Linked DNA regions of Homo sapiens: region 1 is linked to region 2. Evidence: fine-mapped expression QTL. A gene starts in region 2. The other region holds a variant in brackets. All regions are shown on one strand. Distances are between the middles of the regions.

Evidence for each region.
Region 1: its variant is fine-mapped to the expression of PRKCZ in whole blood (TOPMed, PIP 0.98).

What each region holds. Positions count from the first base shown.
Region 1 is chr1:2,109,831-2,115,184 of GRCh38, reverse strand. All of the region lies in intron 4 of PRKCZ (protein kinase C zeta), which reads right to left. Among named protein-coding and RNA genes, the nearest start is that of PRKCZ, 62 kb to the right of the region's middle. RefSeq lists an enhancer at 2,638-2,687. The variant G/A (reference allele first, on the strand shown) is at 2,640.
Region 2 is chr1:2,047,181-2,052,534 of GRCh38, reverse strand. PRKCZ (protein kinase C zeta) reads right to left here and starts at 2,124. Exons shown (of 18, transcript NM_002744.6): 1 at 1,834-2,124. The coding sequence starts at 1,904. PRKCZ-DT (PRKCZ divergent transcript) reads left to right here and starts at 2,465. Exons shown (of 3, transcript NR_135509.1): 1 at 2,465-2,667; 2 at 2,869-2,937; 3 at 3,067-3,334. It overlaps LOC105378590 (a long non-coding RNA gene), which reads left to right and starts at 5,088. Exons shown (of 4, transcript XR_007065357.1): 1 at 5,088-5,341. RefSeq lists a silencer at 1,937-2,546 and enhancers at 4,482-5,235, 5,236-5,354.

The DNA.
Region 1 (5,354 bases), 63 kb before region 2:
CACACAGGGGCCCGACTGAGCGGCCACACCCAGGGTGGATGGCCCCGGATCCCAAGACAAAAGCTCGAAACAAGCAAAACTATCTGCAGGCACCAAGGCCGGGGACGGGTAGGTTACGCCTGGGGTCACCTCGGGGTGTGGGGGTGGCCCCGCGTCCAGAGGACAAGCTACACACGGATCAGCTATGTGACGCGGTGCAGTTTGCTTTGTAAAAACTCGTGGAGTTGAACGCTTCAGATTTCATGTTTTAGGGAGTTTTGTTTCAATTTTAAAAAGTCAAGAAAGAAAAAGAAATCAGAGAATGGAGGCACCCAGGCCGTAACATTCTTTCCATAAGAAAAGCTGAAACCCAACGGCAGGCGGCTCCACCTGCTGCATCTTAGCTTTTTCTTTTTCTTTTTCTTTTTTTTTTGAGACGGAGTCTCGCTCTGTCACCAGGCTGGAGTGCAGTGGCACGATCTCGGCCCACTGCCACCTCCACCTCCCGGGTTCAAGCGATTCTCCTGCCTCAGCCTCCCGAGCAGCTGGGACTACAGGTGTCCACCACCACACTCGGCTAATTTTTGTATTTTTAGTAGAGACTGGATTTCACCGTGTTAGCCAGGATGGTCTCAAACTCCTGACCTCGTGATCTACCCGCCTCGGCCTCCCAAAGTGCTGGGATTACAGGCGTGAGCCACTGCGCCCAGTCATCTTATCTTTTTCTTCAGCTTATTTTATTTGCTCTGTAAGCTTAACTTTTGTGAGCTGAACTCCAAAGTCAACCTGCTGTTTGATTATTTTTGTGACTTGTTTCAAATAAAACCTCTTCTAAGAATTAATGTCCACCATATTCCTTTTTTGTCCAACAAAATAAGTCATCTCTTCTGTTTCAAATGTTCCTTCCCTCATTGGACACTGTGCTTGGGCTACCTGTATTAACACAGATCCCTGGAGAGCACGTTCTCAACACACAAGACGAACCTGCCCTGCATCCGGGGTCCCTCCTTCCACGTCCTCCCAGGCCACGACGGAGCGTCCTCCTGGAGAAAAGCTGGGGTGGGAGGGTGGGGGGGTGCAGCCCTCTGCTGTTTTTATCTCCTGAGCATTCCGAACGCTTCCACAAACTTACGCAGCCGGCCATACCCTCACCCACGCGCCACACGCACCACACACACAACATGGCGCCCGCTCTCCCTCCCCCAGAGCCAGCCCCGTGGAGCCCTTGACCGGTGGCACCCAATCCCCAGGGCATGGATGCTGTGGGCTGGGCCCCCGCCCTCTCTACACTCCCACACCATCATCTCCCCTCCCTCAAACACATGGGCACTGCGGTCCCTTCTCCCTGCCCCAACACCAGTGCCTTGACCTCCCTCCTCCTTGGCCACACCACCCACCTGCCATCCCTGGAGTCACCCCCACAAGGACTGGACCACAGCCTCTGCCCCATGAGTCCTCTGTGCCCCAACTCTCACCCACCCCCCAGCATTCTCCACGGCAGCTAGGCTGCCATTGGCTCTCAGAGATACCACTACTTCGTGCATCATGAGGAAAGACAAAAAATGTTGCCAACTCAACTGGGACACAGACAGGCAGGCTGCACCCCCTTCCAGGATGTCAGGATAAGAGAAGTCCATCCCAGCTCACTCAAGGCCCTGGTCGCCTCTGACAAAGGGGCTATCGGATGCTGCCTCTGTGCCACTTCCGAGTTTCTGGCTGACACCCTGGTCCTCACCTGCTGGCTTCCACCTGCCCTGGGTCAGGAGCGAACTCGGGCAGAAAATATGAATGCCCCGGATGAGCCCCCCTCAAAGCCCAAGATGGGGAGACATCAGGTAGAAGCAGCAGGAGCACATACTTGGCGATCCACAGGCAGCCCACCGAAGAGAACGTCACAGTCACCACAAATCACTGCTGAAGGCGAGACCAGTGGGGAGGAAACGGGGCGGCTGCCTTTTTAAACCTTACGTTAAAACCTTACATTAAAAAACATACTCATGAATCGAGGTACTCGCTAGTCAGAACTGAGACCCTGGAGGGATCCCCCGGGGCCCTGACTGGTGCTGCAGGCCCTCAGGCAGTGCCCGGCTCCAGAGCAGGAGAGGCAGGCACCTGGGTGACCCGGCCAGCCTCGGCCAGCAGTGGGCAGGCCCTAGCCAAGCCACTGTCTTTCCTTCAGCTGATGACTGTAAGTCACAAATGTAAAGAAAATGGGGCCGGGCGCAGTGGCTCAAGCCTGTAATCCCAGCACTTTGGGAGGCCAAGGCAGGCGGATCGCCTGAGGTCAGGAGTTCGAGACCAGCCTGGCCAACACGGTGAAACCCCGCCTCTACCAAATATAGAAAAAAAATAGCCAGACATGGTGGCGAGCTCCTGTAGTCCCAGCTATTTGGGAGGCTGAGGCAGGAAAATCCCTTGAACCCAGGAGGTGGAGGTTACAGTGAGCCGAGATCACGCCACTGCACTCCAGCCTGGGCGACAAGAGCAAGACTCTGTCTCCAAAAAAAAAAAAAACCAACCAACCAACCAAACAAACAAAAAAACGGAACTGCAACTCCAGCAAGTTTCAAGGACCTTTTTCTTCTTCCTTTTTTGAGTACTGTGATGATTACAGGCATCCAGAGAAGGAGGAGGAAACGTGTGGGGTCCCATTCACCTCC[G/A]CTCCAAGCGGCGGCTGCACCCCACAGTCCCCCATGCCGGGACCTCAGCATGGGCCTCTGGGTTGGACTGAGGGGTCCTCAGCATGAAGCTGGCTGGTGTTCACGGGGCAGGGGTTCCAGGCTGACCCTCCGCCTGAGGCTCGTTCATCCTCATTGCAATGGAGCACGTCAGAGGTTCGCGGGCCGCCTCGCCGGCTGCTTCGGACAGAAGGTGCACTGTGCCGTTTGAGGCCTCTGTGTCACTGGGGCAGGGGCCTCAGCTTAACCCACATAAGGATCATGTCTACACATAAACGTCAAACACTGTGTTTTATGAGCAATTTAGGGGATTCTAAGCAAAGCCTGTTTTTTGCCTTCTAGGCAGACTCCTGGAACCCGCACCCTGTAACCCAGGCAGAGGTGAAGGAAGGAGAGGGGAAAAGCTCTGCTGGAAACCACATTCTGCAGCGATTTTCACTCAGTTTGGGAAACACTTGGAGTTTGGGAGACGTTTTACAGCAGATTCATGAAAATGACTTGTCCCGAGGAAACATCGCCTCGAAGACGACTAAGGTGAAAGGAAGGTGCCAACTGGGAGGCTGGCACACGGCACTGCCCTTCCCGGGTCTTCTGAAAGGAAGCTGTGGTCCCTTCCCCGACACCCGTCTCTCCCACATGGGTGAACATCCAGAAGCCTGGTGGTGGATGGACGGTCGGTCAGGAGGCCGGACCCACAAGTGCCTACGTACCTCCCTCCTGCACGTCCTGAGGCTGTAGGTCAAAGGGCAAGAAACAAGGGTGGAGCCAGGATGTGGGTGCTGTCCACACCAGGACAGAGGGTCTGGCTGGTGGGGAGTCGAGGGTGCGGGCTGGAGGGTGAGGGTCCTGAGTCCAGGCCGGCAGCAGCCCCGCCAGTTCCTCATCCAGACCAGCCCAGACTGGAGAACTCCAACAATGGCAGGCGGGGCGCAGCAGGCAGGGGACAGCTCCCAATGCCAGGTGACCCGGCAAGCAGGCTCCCTTCCTCCCCCTGCCACACACTCTTCCCTAACCCCAGCCCCTCCCTGTCCGCCTCTTGAGTCCTGACAACCAGCTTCTCTGGAGACACCCAGACCACCAAGGTGCACCCCTTGTTGCGTGATCCCCTCTGGCCCCCTCATCCTGCCCATCACTTCTCGGAGGCTCAGCCCCAGGCCTCCATGTTGCACCCCCACCCCGCCTGTCCCTGTCAACCTGGGACCCTCCCTGGCTGTGCCCCAGACCTTCACAGTTGCCGTGGGGTTCCCTCCCCGTCCCCTAAGTGGTCCAAAGACACCTTCTCTGCCTCTTTCTTTTCCCACAGCACCCTCCTGAGGGCTCAGTAACCTCAGCTCAGCCCGAGTTAGGCCCAACACGCACAGCCAGCCCCACAGCTCCCAGCACCCACCTCGGCTCCTCCTCGCCTTCCCTGCCGCAATACCCATGGGTGCAGCAGGCCCAACTTTCCTCCTGCCTTCCATCCTGAGCCCTTACCTCGCCATGCTGTGTGAACTGGCCTGGGTCCCGCCCTCAGGGCGGGCACGGGGTAGGGTGGGGGAGCTCAGGATGGCAGGCCTCGCACCCGAGGGGAAGGCCGCAGGGACGTGTGCAAGCTTCCAGTCCCTCACCTTCCGGCTCGGTCTCTCAGGAACTACACCGTCCACCAGCCCCACCCTGGCCCCACAGAGTCCACTGTCACCAGCCCCTACAGGGACTCTACTGTCCACCAGCCCTGCCCCCCACAGGGACTCCACTGTCACCAGCCCCACCCCAGCCCCCTTCACTCCGCTGCTCCCAGCTCTCTCAGGACCCAGCCCACCCCACCCACACTCACAGGGTTTCAGGCAGAGGCCCACAGTCACCAAGGCCGATCCAAACCCCCATTCCCTGGGCCAGCGATGGTGTGAGGGTGGACAAGTGACCCAAGGGTGTCGAGGGCCCAGTGGACTCAGGGGACTCCAGGGACTTGGGGGACCTTCGTACCAGAGGAGTCTCTGTTTCCCTCTTCGGGCCCAGTGGACTCAATGGACTTGGGGGACTCCGGAGATTCAGGGGACCCTGGTACCAGAGGAGTCTCTGTTTCCCCCATGAAGCTGCGACCCAGGAGCCACGGGGCTGCCACGGGACCAGGAGCCCCCTGACCGGGGATGAAGCCTGAACGGAGGAAGCCAGTGCCGGAGCTGCAGAGAGGGAAGAAAGGTCCTGCCTGCTCTGATCACGCCCGGGGCCCCCGCTGGAGGCAGATTCAGCCCTGGCCGTTCTGTTTCTCACCTCTGGGATCCTCTTGGTTGGGACCCATTGGTTTTAGGTCCTTGGCTGCCCCCAGGGAGGGCCCCGGATTCAGCCCTGGCCGTTCTGTGTCTCACCTCTGGGATCCTCTTGGTTGGGACCCATTGGTTTTAGGTCCTTGGCTGCCCCCAGGGAGGGCCCCGGATTCAGCCCTGGCCGTTCTGTGTCTCACCTCTGGGATCCTCTTGGTTGGGACCCATTGGTTTTAGGTCCTTGGCTGCCCCCAGGGAGGGCCCCGATGAAATGGCCCATGCTGGCCGGCTCCTCCGCTTGCCCAGACTGGGAGACACTGGACATCCCTGGAGACGTCTCCCTCAACACCCCAGCCAATGGCCAGGTCTGGCAATTCTGCTACTGGACATTTCTGGAGTCCACCCCACTGCCCTGGCCCTCTCTCGCCCGGCTCCAGGATGACGGCTTTCCCCGGCG
Region 2 (5,354 bases):
GTGCCCTAGAAGGGGGAGGAAGGTGAAGGAAGAGGTGTGGCAGGGAAGGGAGAGAGGGGAGAGCGGGAAGAGGAGGGAAAACAACAGGGAAGGAGGGAGGAAGAGGAAGGGGTGGGGAGAGAGGGGAGAGAGTCCGGGAAGGGAGGGAAGAGGAAGGGGTGGGAGCCTGGTCTCTCCAGCCTGGGAAACCAGAGTCACCGGGTGGAATTACACCCGCCCCACCACCAAAGTGCTCCCAGGGGCCAAAGCAAGGCAGAGGGAGGACGGGGCGGCCCAGAACTCCAGTGGCATTGCCTCCGAGCCTTGGTCCCAGGAATTGGACGCCGGAATGCAGGAGGGTCTGGGCCCCTGCAGCCCCTCGGGTGTGGACCTCCCTCTCGCAGGACTCCCCTGAGCTCCGCACCATCACCTGTTGCCCAGTGTGGTGGCTCCAGAATGGCAAGGAGACAGGAAGCCCAGGTCCCTGGACAAGTCCAATAGCCAGAACGTCAACCATACCAAGTTTTAACCTGCTGACCTCCAGGCCAAAAGACATGGCTGCCCTACCTCTTCAGGTAGGGCTGGACGGTCAGTCCCCCAGAAATCCCTTTCTTCTGGTTCTGGCACCAAACCCGGGCCACTGCACCCCGAAGGTTCCAGGTGCTTGCCACAGGGGAGCTGCAGAGGCCCCAACCTTCCCAAAGAAGAGACAATTGAGCCTCCTCAACAAACCCGGGGCCAAGCAGCCCCAGATGGCTGACCCGAGACCCCAAGACAAGGTTCGCAGGAAGCTGAACCCGCTCAGACTCGCAGGGCACCATAGAGACCCCCGGGGCACTGTCCTGAGAGGACGTGGCCCGGGGAAGTTGTCACCCGCCTAACCCTGCCGGCCGTCCCTGCCTCTGGGGCTCAGGTTGCCCACGCTGTAGCTGAGGACGCACCGGGGCAGGAGCAGCTTTTCGAGATCCCAAGGACCAGCCAGTGCAAGTCCGGAGCCCGCATTCTGCTCCCCTCCCTCTCTGCAGCAGCAGCCACCCTCGCGGGAGCGGAGGTCCCAGTTCGGGGCTCCTGGAGACGCGCACAGGTGGAAGAACAAACCCACGGGTCCTCCCCTCCCCACCGCCCACACTTCGGGGGGCAGCGACCCCTCCGCTGTGCCTGTGAGCCCGGCCACCTGGTGCAGCCCCCGCCACCCCCAGCAGCGCTGCCCCGAGGCGGCGGCCAAGAGTCCAGGACCCCTCCGCTCCAGCACCTGACCGCGCCCCCTCCCACAGCCAGGCAAGGGCCTCCGGGGGGCGGGTGCGACGCAAACCCCAGGGTCAGTCTCGGCCCCACCGTCTCCTCCAGAAACCCCTGTCCCCGCCCGACCGCCCCGAGCCCTGCCGGGGGCTGCATTGGAGCCACAGCGCCCGCGCCCCGGGTCTCCGGATTTTGGCTAAAGCGAGACCCCCGACCGGGTAAACGTGGAGAACGTTTAGGAAACGCTGATTTTAAGAAACCCGCCAGGAGTTTTCACAACTTGATGAAAACTTTCAGTCCTTACAGGTTTGCGGCCGGAACGTCCCCGCCCAACTTTCCAGCGAAAACGTCTACCACAATGACCGGGCCGAGGAGCTCGCGGCGCGGGGCCGACCCCAGGGAAACCCGGTCCCGGGGAAGGAGCCCGCGCTGTCCACGACGTGTCCGCGGGTGACGCTCACGGGCGGGGACCGAGGACCTCCCGCGACAGCCCCGGGCCCGCAGCGACCTCGCCGCCCCTTCCCTCTCTCCCTCTCGCGCAGGAGCCCCGACGGCTGAGCCCTCCCCGCCCTCCCTGCCTCACCCGCGCCGCTCCCCGCCCTCTCCGCCGCTCACCCCCCGTAATGCGCCTTGAGGCGGACGCGGCCGCCGCTCCCTTCCATCTTGGGGCCGGTCCTGCTGGGCATGGCGCGCTCCCCCCGCCGCCGTCAGCGCTGCGCCCCGGGAGCTCCGGCCATGGCGCGGGGCGGGGGCTCCAGGTGGGGCCGCGGCGGAACGCGGAAGGCAGCGCTCAGGACCGACGGCGCCGACCCGGTCAACTCCGCGGAACTCCGGCGGCGCGCGGGGCGGGAGCGGGGGGCGCGCGGGGCGGGACCGTCCGGCGGGGGCGGGGGGCGGTGTCCGAACATGGCGGACCGAGGTGGAGCCAGCGGCCAATCCGCGGGGCGGGCGGTCCCGGGGCGGGCGGTGGCACCTGCGGCCAATGAGGGCGAGGCGGGGCCGCCACCTGGGCCAATCCTCGGGGGACACCCGGCCGCGGCCCAATGGCGAGGCGCGGGCGGGGCTACCTGTCGGGCGGGGCTACCTGTTGGGCGGGGCGCGGCGCACCTGCGCCAATGGGACCGCGCGCGGCGCGGCTCTGCCCGGCAACCGGAGGGGCCCCGGCCTCTGGGACGGAGCGGCGCCCCCGGGAACTCGCTGGAAACGCGAGTTCTCGGCCTTCGCCCAGACCCTCCGAATCGAAACTCCTGCGGCGCGCGCTGCCAGCCCGAGGGCCCCGCCGTCCAGGGGTCCCCTGACATCTCACACTTGCGGACTGAAGCTGCGAGGAGCGGAGAACCCGGCCAGGGTCACGGACGGGAGCGTCCGGACTCGGGTTCTCTGGGCCCCAGCCCCCACTCCGCCCCCAGCGAATCCAAGGTCCCCTGTAGGGAAGGGCCGTCCACACTCGTGAGTGCAACCGCTCACTTCGCCCAGGTCAAGGACGCGGCATTGGCCCGAGTCGCCCATGACCTTCATTTCTGAAGCCACAGCCTCTCGGGCCTTACTCGAGGGGCTTGATCTGGACAATCGCCCTCCAGGCCCCTCCACCGCCGCCCAGCTCCCTGCCTCCTGGGCTCCTCCCCTGAAAATACGGTTTTCCCTGATCAGCCCATCCCTTACTGGCTGCATCCACTGAAGCCCAGACCTGCTGCCTGCAGGACCTCACCCAGGCACCAGGTGGACACCCAGACCCAGTTCCTGGCCTCGGCCCCTCTCCCCTGAGAGTGGACCTGCTCAGGCCACGCCCTCACACCCCTCACCCAGACACAGCCACCAGGACTTCAGCCACGTGCTTTCATCCCGCAGGTCGTGCCTGGCGCCTCCTTGATGCCAGGCCCTGGGGAGACCTGTGGCCACAGAACCCATGTTCTCCCTGGAGATGGACAGGAGGCCCCTCTCCTACGCAGAAGCTGTCGTTTTTTCTTCTTAAACACCGTTTGCCCCTCCCTCCACCCACCGAGCCATCTCTGCCCCTCTCTACAGCAAAGCTTCCGCCAAGCCGGCCCTGCTCCCTGTCTACCTCTCCTGCCACCACCCACTCACACGTTTTAAATACAAGCCGTCGGTTCTCAGACGTTTTCTCTTTTTTTCTTTCTTTTTCTTTTTTTTGAGATGGAGTTTCGCTCTTGCTGCCCAGGCTGAGTGCAATGGCATGATGTCGGCTCACTGCAACTTCTGCCTCCTGGGTTCAAACCATTCTCCTGCCTCAGTCTCCCAAGTAGCTGGGATTACAGGTGTCCACCACCATGCCCAGCTGATTTTTGTATTTTTAGTAGAGACGGGGTTTTTCCATATTGGCCAGGCTGGTCTCGAACTCCTGACCTCAGGTGATCCACCTGCCTTGGCTTCCCAAAGTGCTGGGATTACAGGCGTGAGCCACTGTGCCCGGCCTCAGACATTTTCTTAACTTGGCCTTTGGTATCAGACCCCTCCTGGGAAGGCTCACACATCCCTGGCCCCGGGTTCCAGCTCCCTAAATCTCCCATCCCTCGCCCTCCTGGTCTGCAGCTTTTAAAACTGTGGAGCCCCAGCCTCAGCCTTTGGCCCGCTTTGCATCCCCAGCTCAGATGGGCCCCCTGAGCTCCCAACCAACACTCACCCAGCCCCAGGCATCCTCCTAATGAGCCTCTCAGCTGACGTCTTCCCCCACTCCATCTTTCTGGGTCATCGAAGTCCCCCCAGTGGTTCCCATCACTCCTGGAGGGAAGGCCAGCTCCTCTGCCCCGGCCTCGAGGCCTCTTTGCTGCCCCGGCCTCCGTCTTTGCACGGCCACTCCCTCTTTGCACAGCCACTCCCTCTTCCAGGAGCACCTGCCTGCAGAGATCTGCTGGACTGGCACCCACACTTCCTTGAAGTCTCTAGCATACCTAATGCCCATTTCAGCAATCTACTCCTCACCCCCATCTCCATGGGGCAACCCCCTCTATCCCTCGCACAGGCACAAAGCCCCATGCCCATCAGCTGGGCATGAAGGGGGGCAGAGAGTAGAGGGTGAGGGGGCAGCCTGGCAGGGTACAGTGATGAGTGGGAACCTGCACCTGCAGCAGCCCTGGATTCAGGCACCCGTCGGCCCAGCTCCCCCACTCCAGGCCCCATGGCCAGGGCTGTGGCCTTGTCTGGAGTCTGGCCTGGCAACATGGCCTGGGCGCTTCCTGATGGGCAGGAAAGAGCAGGGTTTCACCTTAGTGGGGCGGTGCCTGGAAGGGGCCACTGGGCACCCACAGGACTTCCTGGCTGGCGTTCTGATCCAAGGAGGCAGCAAGGCCCGGTCCTTGATACCACTGCCCACAGCAGGCAGGACGGACCCTCGGTTGTGTCCTTCCCTGTCACTGGACATCTCTCCCTGGGCCTGCCCCACCCAAGGCCCCGGAGGACCCTTTCTAACCAAGGACGCCCCTGCTGGGTCAGGCCCTCGGCACTGGCCTCCCTGGGGAGATCTGTGCTGCCAGGCGGGAGCCTCCGTCCTGGAAGCCAGTCCCAGGGCCGTGGCAGTGCCCCAGTCCCAGCGAGGGAAGGTGGGGGGCGGGGCTCTATTCTCTCTGGGGTTGGGAGGGAGAGGGCAACGTCAGTGGATGGTCAACCCCAGTGTCAGACTTTGTTCAGCCCTGATGCCGCCGGTGGAGGGGGGGTCGGGACAGACACAGGTTCCGAAAGGCTCTAGCAGAGGACTGCGGGCACAGGGGCTGCCCAAAACGTCCCCAAAACCTCCCCCAGTACCTGCTCTGGCCTCCCCTCCAGGAGGCAGAGGTCTCCGCTAATGAGATCTGCAAAACAAAGGCCTGGGAGGCCCTGGACCCGCCTCTGGGCAGGCAGGGCAGGTCACAGGGAGGTTCCTAGGTCCTCTGCCCTGAGCCTGTGCCCCTGAGAGGGCCCTGAGGGCAGAGGGCGCTTCCTGAGACACGGATAGGCTCACTGGCTGGCGGTGGTGTCACTGTGTCGCCCGGCGACAGATACAGGGTGTTTGCTCTGGAATCTGCCAACGACTCCCATCCAGATCCCGGCTGAGGGCTGGGCCCTGTTAGGCCGGGTCCCCACAGCTTCTCCAGGCACCTGGCACACGGGGAATGAGTGAGTGACTCGGGTAAGGACCCCTC